Linked DNA regions of Homo sapiens: region 1 is linked to region 2. Evidence: fine-mapped expression QTL. A gene starts in region 2. The other region holds a variant in brackets. All regions are shown on one strand. Distances are from middle to middle.

Region 1 (9,709 bases), 55 kb after region 2:
AATTTTTTACTTCTAAACTTTTGTTAGGCTGTTAAATTTGGTGAATAATACCATGAATTATTATTATAAAGATTAGCACATCTATTTACAATAGAATATTTCAAACAGACAGAAAAGCATACAAAATAATATGACAAAAAATCATCTATCTACAATCCAGCCCTAAGTGCTAGATAGTATTTCATGTAATAAAATTTTGCCATATTTGCTTCAGATCTCCCTTTTTCCCTCCCTCCCCCTTTTGCCCTCTTCCTCCCTCCCTTTTTTCCCCTTTCCTCTGTTTCTTCCAAGTTAAAACCTTTTTTTCCTCAACAAGCCACCAGAAGTGCTGACAAAGTTAAAATCATATAGATGTAGTTAAAACCCCTGAAACCAATCTATCTCATTCCTCTCTTGTGATCTGCAGGGTGACAACTACCCTGAATTTAGAGTTTTAATTCCTCTGTGTATTTTTATATTATTTAAAATTTTTTTTAATAAGAGCTGGAGTCTTCCTGTGTTGCCCAGGGTGAAGGGCAGTGCCTATTCACAGGTGCAATCCACTATGATCAGCACAGGAGTTTTGACCTGCTCTGCTTCCCACACAGGTGGGTTCACCTTTCCTTAGGCAACCAGGTAGCCCTCTGCTCCTGGGAGGTCACTATATGATGCCCAGAACTAGTGGGCTCAAGCAATCCTCCCGCCTCAGCCTCCCAAGTAGCTGGGTCTATAGGCACACACCACCACACCCAGCTATTTTTTATATTTATACTATATATGTATCCATAAGACATAAAGTTGATTTGCAAGTTTTTCATCATTAAATGATATATTATGCGCTTTCTTCTTAATCTCTCACTCAACATGTATTAATACTCATCTTTTTTTTTTTTTTCTAAACAGTCTCACTCTGTTCACCAGGCTGGAGTGCAATGGTGTGATCATGACTCACTGAAGCCTTGACCTCCTGGGCTGAAGCAATCTTCCTGCCTCAGCCCTGCAAGTAGCTGGGCCTACGGGCACACGCCGCCATGCCTAGCTAATTTTTGTATTTTTTGTAGAAACAGGGTTTCACATGTTGCCCAGACTAGTCATGACCTCCTTAGCTCAAGTGAGCCACCTGTCTCAGCCTCCCAAAGTGCTGGGATTTCAGGTGTGAGCCACCATGGTTGGCCCCTAATACACATCTTTTTTTTTTTTTTCTTTTTTTTTTGAGATGGATTCTCACTCTGTCTCTCAGGCTGGAGTGCAGTGGCACGATCTTGGCTCACTGCAGCCTCTGCCTCCCAGGTTGAAGCGATTCTCCTGCCTCAGCCTCCCGAGTAGCTGGATTACAGGCGCTTGCCACCACGCTCTGCTAATTTTTGTATTTTTAGTAAAGATGGGTTTTGCCATGTTGGCCAGGCTGGTCTTGAACTTCTGGTCTCAAGTGATCCGCCCTCCTCAGCCTCCCAAAGTGCTGGGATTACAGGTGTGAGCCACTGCGTCAGGCCAATACACATCTTCTAGTTTATTTAAAGTGCTAGATAGTATTTCATTGTATAAAAAGACCACAGTTTATTCATTCTTTTGTTGATAGATCTTTAAATTGTTTCCATTATTTTTCCCTTACAAACAATGCATGATAAATGTTTTTGTATGTGTCTCCTTGTGAGAGTTATATATCTAGGTGTGACATCACTGGGTTCTATCACAAGTCTTTGGAAGTAATTTTTATGTGGATAGTGCAACAATATGACTAGTTACTTAAAAGAAAAAAATTAAGTCAAGATAAGTGGCGGAAGACACAGAAATTCAGAAATAGGATGTAAAATAGTAATGGAATAGTAGGTAAATTAGATACATAATCCTATGCCTTTTTTTTTCTTTTTGAGACGGAGTCTCGCACTGTCGCCAAGGCTGGAGTGCAGTGGCGCCATCTCGGCTCACTGCAAGCTCTGCCTCCGGGGTTCACACCATTCTCCTGCCTCAGCCTCCCGAATAGCTGGGACTGTAGGCGCCCGCCACATGCCCGGCTAATTTTTTGTATTTTTACTAGAGGCAGGGTTTCACGGTGTTAGCCAGGATGGTTTCAATGTCCTGACCTTGTCATCCGTCCGCCTCAGCCTCGCAAAATGCTGGTATTACAGGCATGAGCCACTCCGCCTGGCGACAATCCTATGCTTTTTTAAAAAGGTAGTTCATCTTTTGGCTGGGCATGGTGGCTCATGTCTGTAATCCCAGCACTTTGGGAGGCTGAGGCAGGAGGATCACTTGAGGTCAAGAGTTTGAGACCAGCCTGACCAACATGGTGAAACCCTGTCTCTACTAAAGGTACAAAAATTAGCTGGGTGTGGTGGTGCACACCTGTAATCCCAGCCACTTGGGAGACTGAGGCAGGAGAATCACGTGAACATGGGAGGCGGAGGTTGCGGTGAGCTGAGATCACGCCATTGTACGCCAGCTTGGGCAACAGAGCAAGACTCCAGCTCAAAAAAAAAAAAAAAAGGGAAACATTAATGAAAAGGTAATTCATCTTTTGAAAAAAAAAGTAGAGTGAACATACTGAACATCACAGATTTTCATCTACATTTAAGATGCTAGCTTTAGGCTGGGCGAGGTGGCTCATGCCTGTAATCCCAGCACTTTGGGAGGCCAAGGTGGGTGGATCACCTGAGATCAGGAATTCGAGACCAGCTTGACCAATATGGTAAAACCCTATCTCTACTAAAAATACAAAAATTAGCTGGCATGGTGGCGTGCACCTGTAGTCCCAGCTACTTAGGAGGCTGAGACAGGAGAATTGTTTGAACCTGGGAGGCGGAGGTTGCAGTGAGCTGAGATTGGGTCACTGCACTCCAGCCTGGGCAAGAGAGTGAAACGCTGCCTCACAAAAAAAAAAAAAAAAAAAAAAAAAGATGCTACCTTTAGTGTCACTGCTTCTGTGAAGCCTTCCAAAAATTGCCTTTTTTTCAATTACTTTCTCCTTTTGACCTCCATTCTCTCTACCTCTGTTATATGATATTGTGCATTATATTTGCTGTGGTTTGTTTATATCTCTCTCAGCAGGCTGAATGTGTTTTGAAGGTGGAGTTCATGTCTTATTCGTATCCCCAGGGTGTGGTGTGCAGTTGGTGGTTAAGTCTGAGGAATGAATGAATGGCCCAAATCACCGAAGATCTTTCAGAGGTGGCAGTGGGGTTTCTTTTTTTCTTTTCGAGATGGAGTCTTACTCTGTCATCCAGGCTGGAGTGCAGTGGCACAATCTCAGCTCACCGCAACCTCTGCCACCCAGGTTCAAGTGATTCTCCTGCCTCAGCCTCCCGAGTAGCTGGGATTGCAGGCACGCACCACCACGTCTGGCTAATTTTTTTATTTTTGGTAGAGATGGGGTTTCACCATGTTGGCCAGGCTAGTCTTGAACTCCTGACCTCAAGTGAACTACCTGCCTCAGCCTCCCAAAGTGCTGGGATTACAGGCGTGAGCCACTGTGCCCACTGGCAGTGGGTTTCTGATGATAGGATAGTTTCATGAAAGTTAGCTTAAAGTACAAAAAACTTTTTTTTTTTCTTTTTTTGAGACAGTCTCATGCTCTGTCCTCCAGGCTGGAGTTCAGTGATCTTGGCTTACTGCAACCTCTGCCTCCTGGGTTCACGCCATTCTCCTGCCTCAGCCTCCTGAGTGGCTGGGACTACAGGTGTGCACCACCA[C/T]GCCTGGCTAATTTTTTGTATTTTTAGTAGAGACAGGGTTTCACCATGTTAGCCAGGATGGCCTCGATCTCCTGACCTCGTGATCTGCCCGCCTCGGCCTCCCAAAGTGCTGGGATTACAGGCATGAGCCACCGTGCCCAGTGAAAAAGCTTTGATCCTTTGTCTTCAATTGCACCTATGAAAAGGAAGTTTCGTATAAAAGCTGATATAAATGGCTAATAAAGCAGAGAAATAGCTTAAAATTTGACTGTAGACATTTGCTATGTATGATTAATATGTATCAGTTTACAGTTAATTTTAGGAAAACTTAAATTTTATAAATTGCCAAGAAATCACCCATGAAAAACTAATTTTCACTTAGCGGTTTAATTTTTTAACATTAGGATTTTTAAGTTTCGCTAGTCTTATCATCTGGGACACTGGAATTTTGTCTTGTTGGAATTGCTGATTAAACAAAATAATTCTTCAAAAGTGCTTAGCACAATGTTAGGTAAATAGTAAGCACTAAGTAAACATTGGCTTTATTATTATTAGGTGGTCCTATACTATGATTCCTCCTATTTATATCACGTGTGTCTTGCTGCATATTTAAGGACGCTCCCATCTATATGTTTGGACTAGTGCAATAGTAAAGCTGCCAGCTCAGGTGAAGAAAACCATTTAAAAATTTAAAGTTAAGCACATGATGGAAAATTCTTGAATATGTGGTGAGTTAGGTATAAAAAATATAGGGGGATTGTATTGTTGAATACAAAAAAGCCATTAGACTATTTTAAGAATGCTCTCTTCTGTCATTAGGGCTTGGTTATGAATAGTATATCACATGCATGAAAGGAGGTGGTGGCTAGTTTCATTTCCCTAAAACATGTTTCAATGGTAAATTAGAGGCAGCTGTGGTTTACTGACGCATAAACCCAGTGAGGTCTATGATAACTAGTATATATTTACAGTTTGACTCATGGTGCCTGTCAGGCTTTAATCATAGGGGAAGAAGTGATAGTACTTAGACTTCACTGTTTAATCTTCCGTTCATTTGTTTTCCAAGTTTGTTTCAGTCTGTGGGCAGGTTCCCTTTTGATTGCAACATGCAGTCCCTATTTCTGCAGTTTATCTTCATTTGCCATTTTGAGAGGGCTATGAAAGTCCTATGATAAGCTCCTTGTTCTCCAAATCCATGCATATAAGTCTCATCGAGTTGGATGCATTCTAAAGACATTTTGAAATCACATCAACACTTTCAGATCAGCAAGTTATTTCTTAATAAATTACTGTCTTAATGTTAGATGCTATTTTAAAAACACGAAAGAGAGCAGTTTCCAAATATGTGTTACTACTTCCAGGGAATTGTAAACTGGAGTGTTTAATTAAAAGAAGGCCCTAAATTTTTATTATGCTGTCACTGGATATTTGAATAACTAGCTGTAAATGAGTTCTAGTTGTACAAAAGTGATTTTCTAAATCCAGTTGTCCCTATTTCAAAATATAGTTCTAGTTCCTGGGTGAAACTGAAAATGAAATGGCCATGTCTTTATAACTAAAACAAATTAGAGGGTTGCAGCAATAAAATGAACCCACAGAGGGGAAAAAAACCCTTTGAATCAGGTTTTTATTTTCTTCTCCTGAACTGATTGGGTAATTTACTCAACTAATTTTGTCTAGTCATTAGGAAGTTAATACTCCATTCTATAATTTCCTTCCACTCAAGTGAGCAATACTGGTGCATATAATTTGGATTAAGAACATTCCTCTACTCTTACAAATATTTGGATATATGCCTTGAATATGCTTCCTCATTTAGGCCACAGAAATTTATTCAAAGACAAATCAATCAAAGATAATAACATTAACTACTATTTATTAAGCATCTCCTTCATGACAAGACTTTTTCCCATATTGAGATATAATTGACAATTGAAAATTGTACATATTTAAAGTGTACAACATGATGATTTGATATGCATATATATCCATGCATATATATCCATATCCATATCCATGCATATATATGGATATATATGCATATATATGCATATCAAATCATGTCGTACACTTTAAATATGTACATATTTCAATTATGCATATATATGCATATATCCATATCAAATCATATATATATAATATGCATATATATCATATACATATCCATCACCTCACATAGTTACCATTTTCTTTTGTTCTCTCTCTCTTTCTTCCTTCCTTTCTTTCCCTTCTTTTTTATTTTTTGGTGGTGAGAACACTTAAGATCCACCCTCTTAGCAAATTTCAAGTATATAATATAGTGTTGCTAATTGTAGTCACATCGTTGTAGAATACATCTCCAGAATTCATTCATTTGGATAACTGAAACTCTGTAACCCTTTTCCAATATCTCCCCATTCCTCTATCCCTCCAGCTCATGGCAACCAACATTCCACTCTCTGCTGTTCTAAGTTTGACTACTTTAGTTTTTACATATAAGTGAAATCAACACAGTATTTGTTTTTCTGTGTCTCGCTTAGTTTACTTAGCTTAATGTTCTTCAGGTTCATTCATGTTGTAAATGACAGGATTTCCTTTTGTTTTGAAGGCTGCATAATATTCTGTTGTATATGTATACCATATTTTCTTCATCCATTCATCTGTTGATGGACATTTAGGTTGTTTTCATATCTTGGCTATCATGAATAATGCTGCAATGAACGTAAGAGTAGAGATATCTCTTAGAAATCCTGATTTTCCTTTTTTTTTTCAGACAGTCTTGTCACCCAGGCTGAAGTGCAGTGGCATGATCTCGGCTCACTGCAACCTCCGCTTCTTGGGTTCAAGTGATTCTCCTGCCTCAACCTCTGGAGTAACTGGGATTATAGGCATATGTCACCATGCCCGGCTAATTTTCTTATTTTTAATAGAGATGGGGTTTCATCATGTTGGCCAGGCTGGTCTGGAACTCCTGACCTCAGGTGATCTGCCCGCCTCGGCCTCCCACAGTGCTGGGATTACAGGTGTGAGCCACCGTGCCTGGCCTATTTGATCATCTTTTACAGCTTAGGGAATTAAGGTTTAGATGTGGCACAGGACAGAAACATACTTTGAAGATAGGTCTGTTTGACTTCAAAACCTGTGCTCTTTGCCAGGTGCAGTGGCTCACGCCTGTAATCACAGCACTTTGCAAGGCCAAGGCAGGAGGATCACTTGAGGTCAGGAGTTTGAGACCAGCCTGGCCAATATGGCAAAACCCTGTTTCTATTAAAAATGCAAATATTAGCCAGTCATGGTGGTGTGCTCCTGTAATCCCAGCTACTTGGGAGGCTGAGGCACGAGAATCACCTGAATCCCGGAGGTGGAGGTTGCAGTGAGCTGAGATCGTGCCACTGCACTCCAGCCTGGGTGACAGAGTGATAGTCTATCTCAAAAAAAAAAAAAAAAACAAAAAACAAAAAACCCCCACAAAACCCACAAAACCAAACCAAAAAACCTGTGCTCCTTACTGTGCTCTCCTGCCTCTCAGTGCGAGATAAACAGAGTGGGCAAAATAGCCTATGATGTCATCATCCGCAAGGCCTGTTGCTACTGTGTGATGCCTGCTCCCTAGATGACCTCCTGGGGGGGTGAAGCGAGAGGAAATCTGGCACCAAGCTGGTTGAGGGGCAGAGCGAGAATGTCTGGGCTTCCCCCACCCAGCTTGGAATGTGAGTGATGCAAATCATCTCATCGAAGGCTCAACTGCAGCCAGGAGACTCCTCCAGTGATGATGAGAGTGTACAAATGAAGTGCAGGAGCGGGGGAGCCTTCACACACCTCCAGCCCTTCCTGCTTCTTGAAATACTCATATCCTCTGGCAGAGACTAGCTACAGAAATCCATGTCCACTTACTCACAGCCTGAAAGAAACCCACACAGTGGACCAGGAAGGTTGTTGCATGGTAATTAGAGCTACTATTGAATTTCTATTGTGCATCTTCTCAATTAGGCACAATTACCACATATAAGAAATGAGGAAATTAAGACTCAGAGGAATTAGGTGAATTGCCCAAGGTTATTACATAGCTTATACCTGGCCAACCAGGGTTTAAACATTGTTCTATATCCTAATCCAAGACCCATGTTCCTCTCACTACTCAGGTTTATTTCTTTCGCACAGGGATATTACAAAGTCATTATATTTCCTGATTATATTTTTGCTGCTGCTGTATGACCATCTCGTTTCTTGTCACTGACTTTATCCAAAAGCAAGAACATGGTATGGAATTTTGGGGGAAGCAGTTGAAATGAAGTGTTGGAATTTCAGAGCTTGCATTACTGGATTATGTGTGGATTGTTGTTTGTACTGCCTCTTTCTTCCTCCTGCTACCTCATATAGGTGCTTGATATCTGATTATTACAGTCTTTTTAGGGGTTCTTGAACATACTCACTTGTAGAAAAGTGCTGGTTAAAATCATAACAGGCAGACATTTGGGTTCTTATAGCCTTGCAATAAATGGAAGGAAGTAACTTTTGGGCTTATGAAAATGTATACTGCAAGGTTTTTCTTTCTTTCTTTCTTTCTTTCTTTCTTTCTTTCTTTCTTTCTTTCTTTCTTTCTTTTTCTTCCTTCCTTCCTTCTTCCTTCCTTCCTTTCTTCCTTTCTTCCTTCCTTCCTTCCTTTCTTCCTTTCTTCCCTTCTTTCTTTCTTTCTTGAGACAGGGTCTCGCTCCATCACCCAGGCTGGAGTGCTCACTGCAAGGATCCTCCTGCCTCAGCCTCCCAAGTAGCTAGGACTACAGGCATAGCCACCATGCCTGGCTAACTTTTCTTATTTTTTGTTTTATGTAGAGACAGTATCTTGCTGTGTTGCCTAGGCTGGTCTCAAACTCCTGGCTTCAAGGGATGCCCCCACCTTGGTCTTCCAAAATTCTGAGATTATAGGCACGACCCACCATGCCCAGTGGTTTTCTTAAAGTTCTCTGCAAGGTGTAGATAGTTTCATGAGTAAGATGATTAGTCAGTACAGTAGCAACATTAGGTAATTGGTTTTGCCATTTCGAGCTTGTAGCAAATTATCCATTCTTATATGACAAAGCCTATGGGACAACTGGAGGACTTGAACTGTTTCTCTTCAGTGCCCGTAAAGAAGGGACTGAAGCTTCATAAATCTAGTCCTTCACTCTCCTAGCTCTGATCCTGTCCTTTCTGTAAGTAATGATCATATTGCCTTCAGTAGGTGTTTGTCAAGTCTGTATTTTGTTTTAGAGACAGGAGCTCGCTTTGCTGCCCAGGCTGGACTCGAACTCCTGGGCTCACTTTATCCTCCTGCCTCAGCCTCTCTGAGTAGCTGGGACTACAAGCACTGCCATGGAGACCAATTTGTCAAGCATTTTAATACCATCTCATCACTGTAATGATCAACACATGTGATCTAAAAATCTTTTACATGGCAGTGGAAAGGGCTTGAGCCATCTCCGTATTAAAACCCAGGTGGTATCCTCATCCTTTAATCTTGAAATGTTGAAAGAGTTGATTAGCTGTCCTTGCTAGCTATCTCTAGGAAGGATAGCTAATAACTGTTTTGCTTTTGCTTTTGTGTGTGTGTGTGTATATATATTTATATGTATATATGTGTGTATATATATACAAAAGCAAAAGCAAGACAGTATTTGAAATTTGAAGACATTGATTCTCATAACCAGTCTATTTCAGGATTAAATCACATAACCACCAATCTCTGCCAACCCACTTTCCAGTAACCACCCCACCTCCAATTTCCTGTAAATAGCAAACACTCTGTAGTATTTCATCTACAGGGAGCACTGTTGAGTAGCTGGAGTAGTAACAGTATTTGCTTATTTTTTTACTTGAGAAGGCTTTTTGTTTGTTTTGAGATTGGTGTGTGTTGGGGGGGTCTCACTATGTTGCCCAAGCTGGATTTGAACCTCTGAGCTCAAACCTCCTGCCTCAGCCTCTTGAGTAACTGGGACTACAGATGCGTCACCACGTCTGGCTACTTGAGAAGTTTTACAATTTTTATGTTTTAAAAGCAGGAAAAGAAAAAAATCTAGGACTTGTCTCTGTCATAACATCATCCA
Region 2 (9,709 bases):
AGAATTAGTCTATGATGATATTAAATAGAACACCTTGAAAGATGCATAATTACAAATAAACTAACACGTAATTATCTAAATGCATATAAATTGGTTTCCTTATTTTACTGCCCAATCCTCACCTTTTTTCCTGCCAGCTTTCACAGACACTTTAAATCTATTTACACAGACTACGATGTGAATCCTACCTGGAAGCTTAACAACACGGCAGCCCGTGCTTCAGAGGGAATGGCTTCCAAACACACAAAGGTGAAAAAAAATCAATATCAACGTTTCCAAAGCATGTTCTACAAAACACTAGTACTAAGGACAAGCAATATGTATTACAGAGAAAAAGAATCTAATAGTCAAGTAAGTTTGGAGTTTGCTAGGTTAAGCAAAGTTTACCAGGTTTCTTTACCATAGGACTTCTCAGTCTTTAACCTACTCATGGTATGGCTTTTCCTGAAGCACCCCAACCACACTTTGGAAAATGCCTGTGTACAGAATTTAGCTAATGCCTAAGAAGCCCAGTCCAGAAGTCACTAAAGATGACTCTAAGGCTTACAGCCTGGAGTCTTTGTGTATCCAGTCTTGGATACACAGGCTAGGAATCATTCACAGGGACCAGACTAAAACCATAAGACTAGGTAAGATACTTCCTCAGAAACCATATTGAGACTATTCTTTCAAAACTTCTTTTGCCTTATCCCATCTCCAGCTTTACTATCTCCTGCTTCTTTCTAGCAAAAAATCTAGAAAAACATAAGGACATCAAGACTTAAAGGGTAGGAATAATAAAAATTAAACTGGAAAACTGCCTGACAAAAGATGGCACAATGCATGTGAAAATCATATTATGATCTATTATAACTACCTAATTTCTCCAAGAAAACTTTTTTGAATGGCAAACCTATGGATCATTTTTTCATTTTTTTGGATCATGAAGCTCTTTAAGAATGCAATGAATGCTATAACCCATCTCCACAGAAAAACACAAATACATACAACATTAAGCCTATTAATTTCAGAGCACTCCATGGGCCTCCTGAGGCCCAACTAAAGAGCTTCAGTTGCCAGCTCCTAGGTCCCTAGGTAACCCAAGCTGCAGGCACTTCATGACAGATAAAGCCTGCAGAGTTACACGACACTTACAAGATACGACTTTAGACAGTGCAGATAAAATGTATATATGCATTGGCCTGAAAAAAATAAAGATAACTTACTTACTAAGTAAAATTTGAGTCATTTAGTCAATACCAAAAGAAGAAGGGCATATGATGGTAATAATATCTCCACAACAAAACAGCTCTGAGAGGTTGATTTCACAAGGTCACATAGCTAATAAATCCCAGATTGTCCACATCCTTGTTCAGTGCTTTGGAACTAAACCACGCCACCTTAAGTACAATAAATATGTTATTACATTGAGTAGGAAAACATTTTCAAAATAAAAATCTCCACCAACCTTCCAAGAATGACTATAATCGGATCTCTTATTTATTTAATCCAATCATTCCATTTTTAGCACGTAAATGCTGACAAATTAAGGAACAAATTATATATATTGGCTTTTGAAAACAAAATGTACTTCTCTCTAGCACAATTAATTTGTATAAATAAGAAAAAACTAAAACAGCAAAACAAATAACAAAAAAATGTAACTTTATAGAATAAACTTGATTATAGACAAAAACATAAACAAGAGTTTGGCAGGCAGGGGTACATGATGTCAAGAACCACATGAAGTTTCTCTGCTTTGGTCACTGGTATTGGAAGAGTCTGGCAGGCAGGGACCAAGCATCTATTATCTGATATCCACTTGGCAGACTACATAAACAGTGAGACCTTGTGGCACAGCAGGAATTAGGTATTCCAACTACTACTTAAAGATCTACACTGACTCAGAGTGTGGCTACAACTCAAATGCTAAACTAAATGTGTGCCTCAGTTTCTCCACTGGAAATGTAATACATTATCTGCCCATCTCCTATCTTTAGAGAGGCAGCACTGCCAATTGGTTAAGAATACAGTCCCTAATTGGTTCAAATTTTGGCTTTGCCACCTACCAACTTTGGCAAGTTAATCTCCTTGTGCCTCAGTTTATTCAACTGCAAAATGGAGTTAACAATAGCACCTATCTCACAGGGTTGCTGTTAGGATTAATTAGAAAAATCTTATAGTGCCTGGCAAGTAACAAGCATTCCATAAACATCAGCTAGTATTATCATTATTTTAAACGAATGACAAGATTAACCAACTTAGTATACCTCTATTACACTTAGGAAATTACAGGCCCTAATTTTTTTTTGCTTTTTAATCATGTGGCTTAACTACTAACTGTTCTTTTTAATATAGCAAGTACACAGCCAATTAGTCCTGTAAAAAAATTCACTGTATACCCTGCCACCTAAAACGTATACATTCATCGAGTTTTAGTTAACTTTTCATCGCAATATAAGCGAACTCCCCCAACCAGTCATAAGTGACTTGCATCCATCCACTTCTACTTTCACAGTCATCACCATATTCCTTAACACCATTATTCTTACCTAGACTATCACAGTGGCCTCCCAACTGCTCCATTCCACTCTTCATGCTGTAGTAGGGAGCTCTTTTAAAAACCTAAATCTAATGTCACTCCTCTGCTTAAAAGCCTGCAATAGTTCCCCATTGTCCTAAACAAGTCCGATCTCCTAATGAGAACTAAGAGGCCTGCAAGATCTAGGGCCACCCTCCCGCTCTGGCTGCTCAGGCTATACAGGCCTTCTTTCACATCGGGCCTCAGAGCCTTCACATATCATGCTCCCCTATCTGGCGTAATCCCCTCTCCCCAGTACCCTAAGCAACGCCTAATCATCTCTGAGATCTCAGCTGAAAGGCGATGAGCGTCTGATACCCTAAACAGGATCAGGTCCTCCTATTACATGCTCTCATAACCCTGATCCTAATACTCTTTTCTGCATCACAAAATTAAACGGCAATAATTATTTAAATGGCTATTTAATACTGTCCTTGTCCAAAAAAATAGAAACACTTAGGAAGATTTGGAACCAAGTCTATCGTTTACTGCTACAACCCAAAGTGCTTACTTGCCAAGTATCTCATACATTGTAGGTGGGCTCAATATATCTATATTGCATAGTAGGAAAAGTGATGAGATCCACGATGGTGAAAAGTAGATCATCCAGAAAATCAGACTAAAGCAGAACACTGGCTGCACTGTATTAAATATGTAAGTTACCACAGGCATTACACTGAAGAGTAAAAACCTGCTTAAACATGGGCAAAATAAAGTTAAGACTGAACTTTCCAATGCAAAATTAAGTTTCTTTGTGCATCCTCAGGTGTTATGTGAAACTGGAGGAGTTCAACTTCAGTTACCAGTAAGAAGATACACAACTAAATCAAGACTGCTGCCACATTTGGCAACAACCTCCTCTCTTCTTGGCAGTAACTGTGAGGCCAAGAGTTGAGTTGGCCAGGGAAGAGTGATTTATCTTCCCACATTTAGAAGTGGTCCCTCTACAACAGGAATGCTGTACCGCTACTGGACTTTGAATTCTAACCTTGTCAAACCAGTACCTTCCCTAAGTATTCAAGTCACTTTTTAAAAAACAAGTTTAAATGGCATCGCAGTCCAATTCGACTTAGAGAAAACAAAGTTGCTCTTTCCAAAAAAAAAAAAAAGTCATTACTCTGGAAAATTAAAAGAAACTGACAGGGGGATGAATAAGGCGCTAAAGGCTGAGAGCTGTCGATGGAAGATGGAGGTCGCTCAGCATAGTATAATAACTACCACCGAGGCCTGGTGGGCAGCAGCTCCCAACCTAGAGCGGACGACCCCAGGTTGGCGTGAAGCAGGCAGGTTTGACAACACCAGACCCCTGCTGTCCGGTTCGTCGCGCTGACCCTGCCAACGCAACAAACGCCCAGACCTTCTCTGCACTATGGATGAGCAGTGTGGCCTGCTCTCGTTCTGCCCTTCCCTGGAAATGCGCGCAAGAAGGGAGGTGGCAAAAATCATGTCCACCGGGGGGGCTCAGGTAAGGGCTGGGGAGGTCTCGGGGTTAAACATTCGGCCCTTTGTTCACCAAGGCAGCAGAGCCCTTGGCGTCCGCAGCTCCTCCTCCCCGACTGCTCCCTGGCGCCAGCGTCTCCCGAGGACAGGCGGCAAGGGCTCGGACGCCCAGGCTTGGCTGCGGGTCGGGATCCCACGGCCTCGGCGGCGCGCGGCCCCTGCCTTTACCTTGTAGACGTCGCCGTAGGTGCCGCTGCCGATGCGCTGAATCAGCTCGAAGTCCTCCTGCGGGTTCCGGCGGGACAAATCGAAGCCGGGGTTCATGGCGGGCCCCAGGTGCCCCCCGCCTCCCTCCCGGGCAGGGGAGGGGGGCCGCTCAGGGGGCCACACGGAGAGAGGGCGCCGCGGCCGGCTCCCGGCTCCCCCGGCGGTCACAATCACCCGGCTCCACGCTGCGGCCGCCGCCGCCGCCGCCGCTCCCCTCACGCCGCTGCGGACGACGACAAGCGGCCAATCGTCCCCGCCCCCCGCGGCCCGCCGCCGCGCCGAACCTGGTCACACCCACAAGGAGAGGAGAACCCTCGCAGCCCCTCGCTCGGGGTGAAACTCCAACATGGCTTCCGCTTTCGCCGCTCCTCCCCCTCCCCTTACTCCGGCTCCTCCAACCTCCTCCCCTTTTCCCGACTCCCGCCCGACTGCGCAGCCGCGATCCCGGAGGGAGCGCGCCAGGCCTGGCGCGCACCCGACCCCTTGCGCGTTCCGGCTCCGCGCGCCTGCCAGGCCGGGGCCGGCGGCGGAACAGCTTGGGACCCGAAACGCCTCGGCTTTTCTGCGGACCCGCGCCCGGCCGCTGCCGCCGGACGCTTGAAAAGGTTTGCCTGGCCCAGGGACCGGGGTTAGGACTAGCAGAAAGTGGCTTCTTTTCGTTTCTGATTCCCCTAACGACAAAGTTGGACCTTGGTCTATCTGGTCCCAGTTCCAAGCAGGTAGCATAGTGGTAATATCCAAGACAGCCAATGTCCCAGCCTTTATTATTTTAGAAGCAGCTACATGTAGGATACCATGGAGTGCTGCAGCCTTTCTGGGATTGCGGGGAGGGGTCACTAAACACACCGTGAGGAAAACCCCCAGGAAAAGTGAGCTGTGCTTGCTTGCCCCTGTCACCGACACTCGGACCCTTGGAGTTGGCCTGCCAGGGTGCAAAGGAGGGCAGGCCAGGAGGGCCGCGAGGGAGGTGTGTGCAGTGGGCAGAGCGTGAAAGCTCCGGGAGGAAAACACGCGGAACAGCTGCCCACCATCCCGCGTGGGAGGCAGGCAGAGCGCAGAACTAAAGCAGTGATTGACCTCCCTCTTCGAAGAGGGTTGGATTATCAAAGACGGGCGGGGACTGCGCAGGCTGTCAAGCAACCCTGTAAAGAAGGGGTGGAGAGTGGACTAGATCTATTACCGCACCTGAAATATAAACACGTGACGATCCGGAAGCTCTTTAGCTGTGACCTTACCTACCCAAAAACCCCACCCTGCTTAAGACCCAGATTGCGCGTCTTACATCTGAGCTATGTGGACTCCAGCTCCGATTGTTAATACTTGCCCAAGAAAGCTTGAGGGTAATGGAAGGTTATTTTTCTGTTCTCATTGAACTTCCCAATAGACATTTGCAGGAGCTTTAATCAATTAGGTGATGGCCACTTTGGCAATACCACGTTGGAGTTTTGCTTCAGAAATGCTTTCCTAATCCCCTTAGGCACCACACCTTCTAACCACTAATATTCCCTAATACCTCGTGGCTCCTGAGAAACTAGGTCTCATCAAACCTGTTAAGGATAAGTATAATAAATTAATAGTAGAGCAAACTACTTAGAGTTAACTGCTTCATACTTTTTCAAAAAATCTTTTGAATCCTTTTGCTCATAGGAAAATTGCATATGTACTAAATTCTCAAATTGTTTACTTTGAGTATCTGTTGACTAAATTGATGTTTGAAAATGGTTATCTCTTCACCTATATAAGTAGCCTTTCAGTTGTGTAATTTTTAATTATTAAATTTTAAAGCATCAGTAATATGAAAGTATCACTTAAATTATTGCCTTAGGAGTGCATATCATTGAATATCTTCTCGATGGATCTACCTTCAGGCTCTGGTATCTTGAGAAACTCCTGACTATAAATGTTATTCCATAGCCAAAGGTCTTGCTTTTGCTTGTTTAAGGTACTTGCCCAGGACCCAGATTACAGGCCTTCCTTCAGTTTGTCCACATTTGGAGAATTGTTTGGCATGTTTAGGCCAAGCGCAAGAATAATTAGCCAAGGATTCAGATAAGCAGACCTGACAAATTATCCCAAATGGAAGCCAGGTCTGCTCTTTTCCTCTGCCTTTTTTTTTTTTTTTTTTTTGAGAAGGAGTTTCGCTCTAGTTGTCCAGGCTTGAGTGCAAGGGTGCAATCTCAGCTCACTGAAACCTCTGCCTCCCGGGTTCTTAGCGATTCTCCTGCCTCAGCCTCCCAAGTAGCTGGGATCACAGGCATGCAACACCACACCCAGCTAATTTTTGTATTTTTAGTAGAGATGGGATTTCTCCTTGTTGGTCAGGCTGCTCTTGAACTCCCGACCTCAGATGATCCGCCTGCCTCGGCCTCCTGAAGTGGTGGGATTACAGGCATGAGCCACTGCACCCGGCCTCTGCCTTTTTAGTGCCAGAAAGCCAAATTCTCAGGACTGAAAGCTGCACAAGAAAGTTCTAATGACTTCAGTGTTTTGTTTGCTGAGATTATCGTCTGTCCAAATAACTTTGCATTTGCATCACTAATAGACTGCTTTCAAAAGGAAAAGACATTTCAGTAGGGCTAGAACAGTCTTTAAAGTTTTGTCTGTTCCATTTTGGCAGGGCCAAGCTAGTCCTTTTGAGAAGAGATGAATTTCCATGTAAGGGCCTGATTTGCCATGTGGGTTACAACATAAGTAAAACAACTGCTCACAAAGAAAATATTTTGTTTTTTGTAATATATGCATGTGGCCAATTCCAGTGCCTTTTCCCCCTGTTCTAACAATCCTCAGTTTTGCTAGAAGTAACACTAATGATCACACTTTCCTAGAATCAGAGAAAGAGCTTCCCTCTTCTATGATTAGAAGCATTCTTAGAAGTCATCTAATCTTTTTAACTCAGGAACTGCTTCTACAGCATCTCTGCTGGATTTGCTGCTGCTTGAATACTTTCAATAAAAGGTGACTCATTGCTTCCCAAAACAACCCACCTCGTTGTGATACAGTGCTAGTAAATGATCATAATAACTAGGAGAAAAGTAGTAATTTCTAACATTGCTAAGTGCTTACAAGATACCAGGAATGGAGCCAAGTATTTTTCATGTGTTATTTCATTTAATTCGCACAACAACCTAATGACATAGGTAATATTATCTCCATTTTATGAGGCACAGACAGATTAAACTGCTCAAGGTAACACAGAAGGCTGAAATTTGAACAAAGGCAGTATGACACCAAGGCTAGATTCTTAGCCACTAGTCTATACTCTGCTTATATACAATATACTGTAAAAAATTTCTCTTATGGTAAGCCAACCTCTACCTCCCTGTAATGTATTTAGAGGCAATGATTATTAGATTCTGGTGGTATTGAATACAGAAAAGAAAAGCCACAATGCCTTCCCTCAAGGAGTTGACAGTCTCATAAATAGTGTGAGAAGCACAGAGAAGGGACATTAATGCAGACGGGAGGAAGATTTAGGAATGACCCCTTGGCTGGGCGCAGTGGCTCATGCCTGTAATCCCAACACTTTGGGAGGCCGAGGCGGGTGGATCACCTGAGGTCAGGAGTTCAAGACCAGCCTGGCCAACATGGTGAAACCCCATCTCTACTAAAAATACAAAAATTAGCTGGGCGCGGTGGCACGTCCCCTGTAATCACAGCTACTCGGGAGGCTGAGGCAGGAGAATCACTTGAGCCGGGAGGTGGAGGTTGCAGTGAGCTGAGACTGCACCATTGCACTCCAGCCTGGGCAACAGAGGAAGCGTCCGTCTCAAAAAAAAAAAAAAAAAAAAAAAAAGGAATAACCCTAAAGCTGAACCTTGAAAAATGCATAGGCAGACAAGGGAAAGTGGTGCATGACAGGCTGGCTGCTTAGCGCCTTGAAGCACCTACCCGTTTAAGCATCACACAGCAAGGAACACAAGAAGGCCAAGATAGGCAGCAGTCCCCACCTGCCAGCATGTCCAGGCCATCCTTCTATTGCCCCATCCCCCATGGGTTTCTGGCTTAGGAACCCCTTGATCCCCTGCACAGGCTCCCAATTTCATCCTCGACCTCTTGTCTGACAACTCACTGGAGCCCCTTCTTTGGCCTATTAACCTCAGCCCTCCTCATATAACATAACCACCACTCACATTTTCAGTACATTAGCTGCTCTGGAAACAGGATACTGAGCAAGCCTTAGCTCAAAAAAATGCCAGAAGCAGGTCATCCACCAGGGGAGGAAAATCACACAGAGAGCATGTATGTGAAATAATATGGCACATACAACAGACAATTGTGCTTAAATTCTGAAGACAGAGGGAGATGGTGGCAATGGAGCTAAAAAAATCAGGTTTCTTTTTTTAATTAAAAAATTTTTATTTATGGCCAGGCGCTGTGGCTCACACCTCTAATCCCAGCACTTTGGGAGGCCGAGGCGGGTGGATCACCTGGGGTCAGGAGTTTGAGACCAGCCTGACCAACATGGTGAAACCCTGTCTCCACTAAAAAAAATACAAAACTTAGCCGGGAGTGGTACCACGTGCCTGTAATCCTAGCTATTCCGGAGGCTGAGGCATGAGAATCGCTTGAACCTGGGAGGAGGAGGTTGCAGTAAGCTGAGATTGCACCACTGCACTCCAGCCTGAGTGACAGAGTGAGATTCTATCATTAAAAAAAAATTATTTATGTATTTCATTTCTCCCCAGCTTTAAATTGAGGCATAATGGGCAAATAAAAATTGAATGTCTTTACAGTGTACAATGTGATGTTTTGATATATGTATATGTTTTGAAATGATTACTACAGACCAGCTAGAAAAATTTACTTACAAAATTCAAACATGCTTAAGAAAAATTTATACTTTTTTTAAAAAGTCAGAAACTGGCTTGTGAGGAGCTGGTTTTCAGGTGGGTTATCATATGTTTAAGCTGCAGAGACTTCCAAAAGGTTATACAGCCTTACCTAGTACAGCTCTGAACCAGGCTACCTAGGTTTAAATCTTATCTCTGTTCCCTGACTGAAAAACCTTGGGAAGTTATTTAAAACTATAGCTGTTTTGATTAATCAAAAAGAAAATACAGGGAAAGGAGTGCCTGGCACTATAGTAACCCCACAAAATATTAATTATTATTATTTTGAGTGTTCTTTTTTCTTTTTCTTTCTTTTTTTTTTTTTTTTGTTTGAGACAGAGTTTTGCTCTTGTTGCCCAGCCTGGAGTGCAATGGCACAATCTTAGCTCACCGCAACCTCCGCCTCCTGGGTTCAAGCGATTCTCCTGCCTCAGCCTCCTGAGTAGCTGGGATTACAGGCATGCGCCACCATGCCTGGCTAATTTTGTATTTTTAGTAGAGATGGGGTTTGTCCATGTTGGTCAGGCTGGTCTCAAACTCCTAACCTCAAGTGATCCGCCCACCTCTGCCTCCCAAAGTGCTGGGATGACGCATGAGCCGCCGCACCCGGCCT

Direction of the effects. Positions count from the first base shown, and alleles are read on the strand shown. Sizes are in standard deviations (SD) of each study's normalised expression.
With allele T in place of C in region 1, the expression in esophagus mucosa of the gene that starts at base 4,753 in region 2 is lower (small effect, 0.40 SD a copy in GTEx).

The links. PIP is the estimated chance that this variant, and not a neighbour inherited with it, causes the effect.
Region 1: its variant is fine-mapped to the expression of MAP4K3-DT in esophagus mucosa (GTEx, PIP 0.94).

The regions. Positions count from the first base shown.
Region 1 is chr2:39,487,711-39,497,419 of GRCh38, forward strand. The region is part of intron 3 of MAP4K3-DT (MAP4K3 divergent transcript); the gene reads left to right. Among named protein-coding and RNA genes, the nearest start is that of MAP4K3-DT, 55 kb to the left of the region's middle. The variant C/T (reference allele first, on the strand shown) is at 3,669.
Region 2 is chr2:39,432,664-39,442,372 of GRCh38, forward strand. It overlaps MAP4K3-DT (MAP4K3 divergent transcript), which reads left to right and starts at 4,753. Exons shown (of 6, transcript NR_037875.1): 1 at 4,753-4,872. MAP4K3 (mitogen-activated protein kinase kinase kinase kinase 3) reads right to left here and starts at 4,622. Exons shown (of 34, transcript NM_003618.4): 1 at 4,229-4,622. The coding sequence starts at 4,324. RefSeq lists an enhancer at 3,816-3,895 and silencers at 4,226-4,585, 4,656-4,875.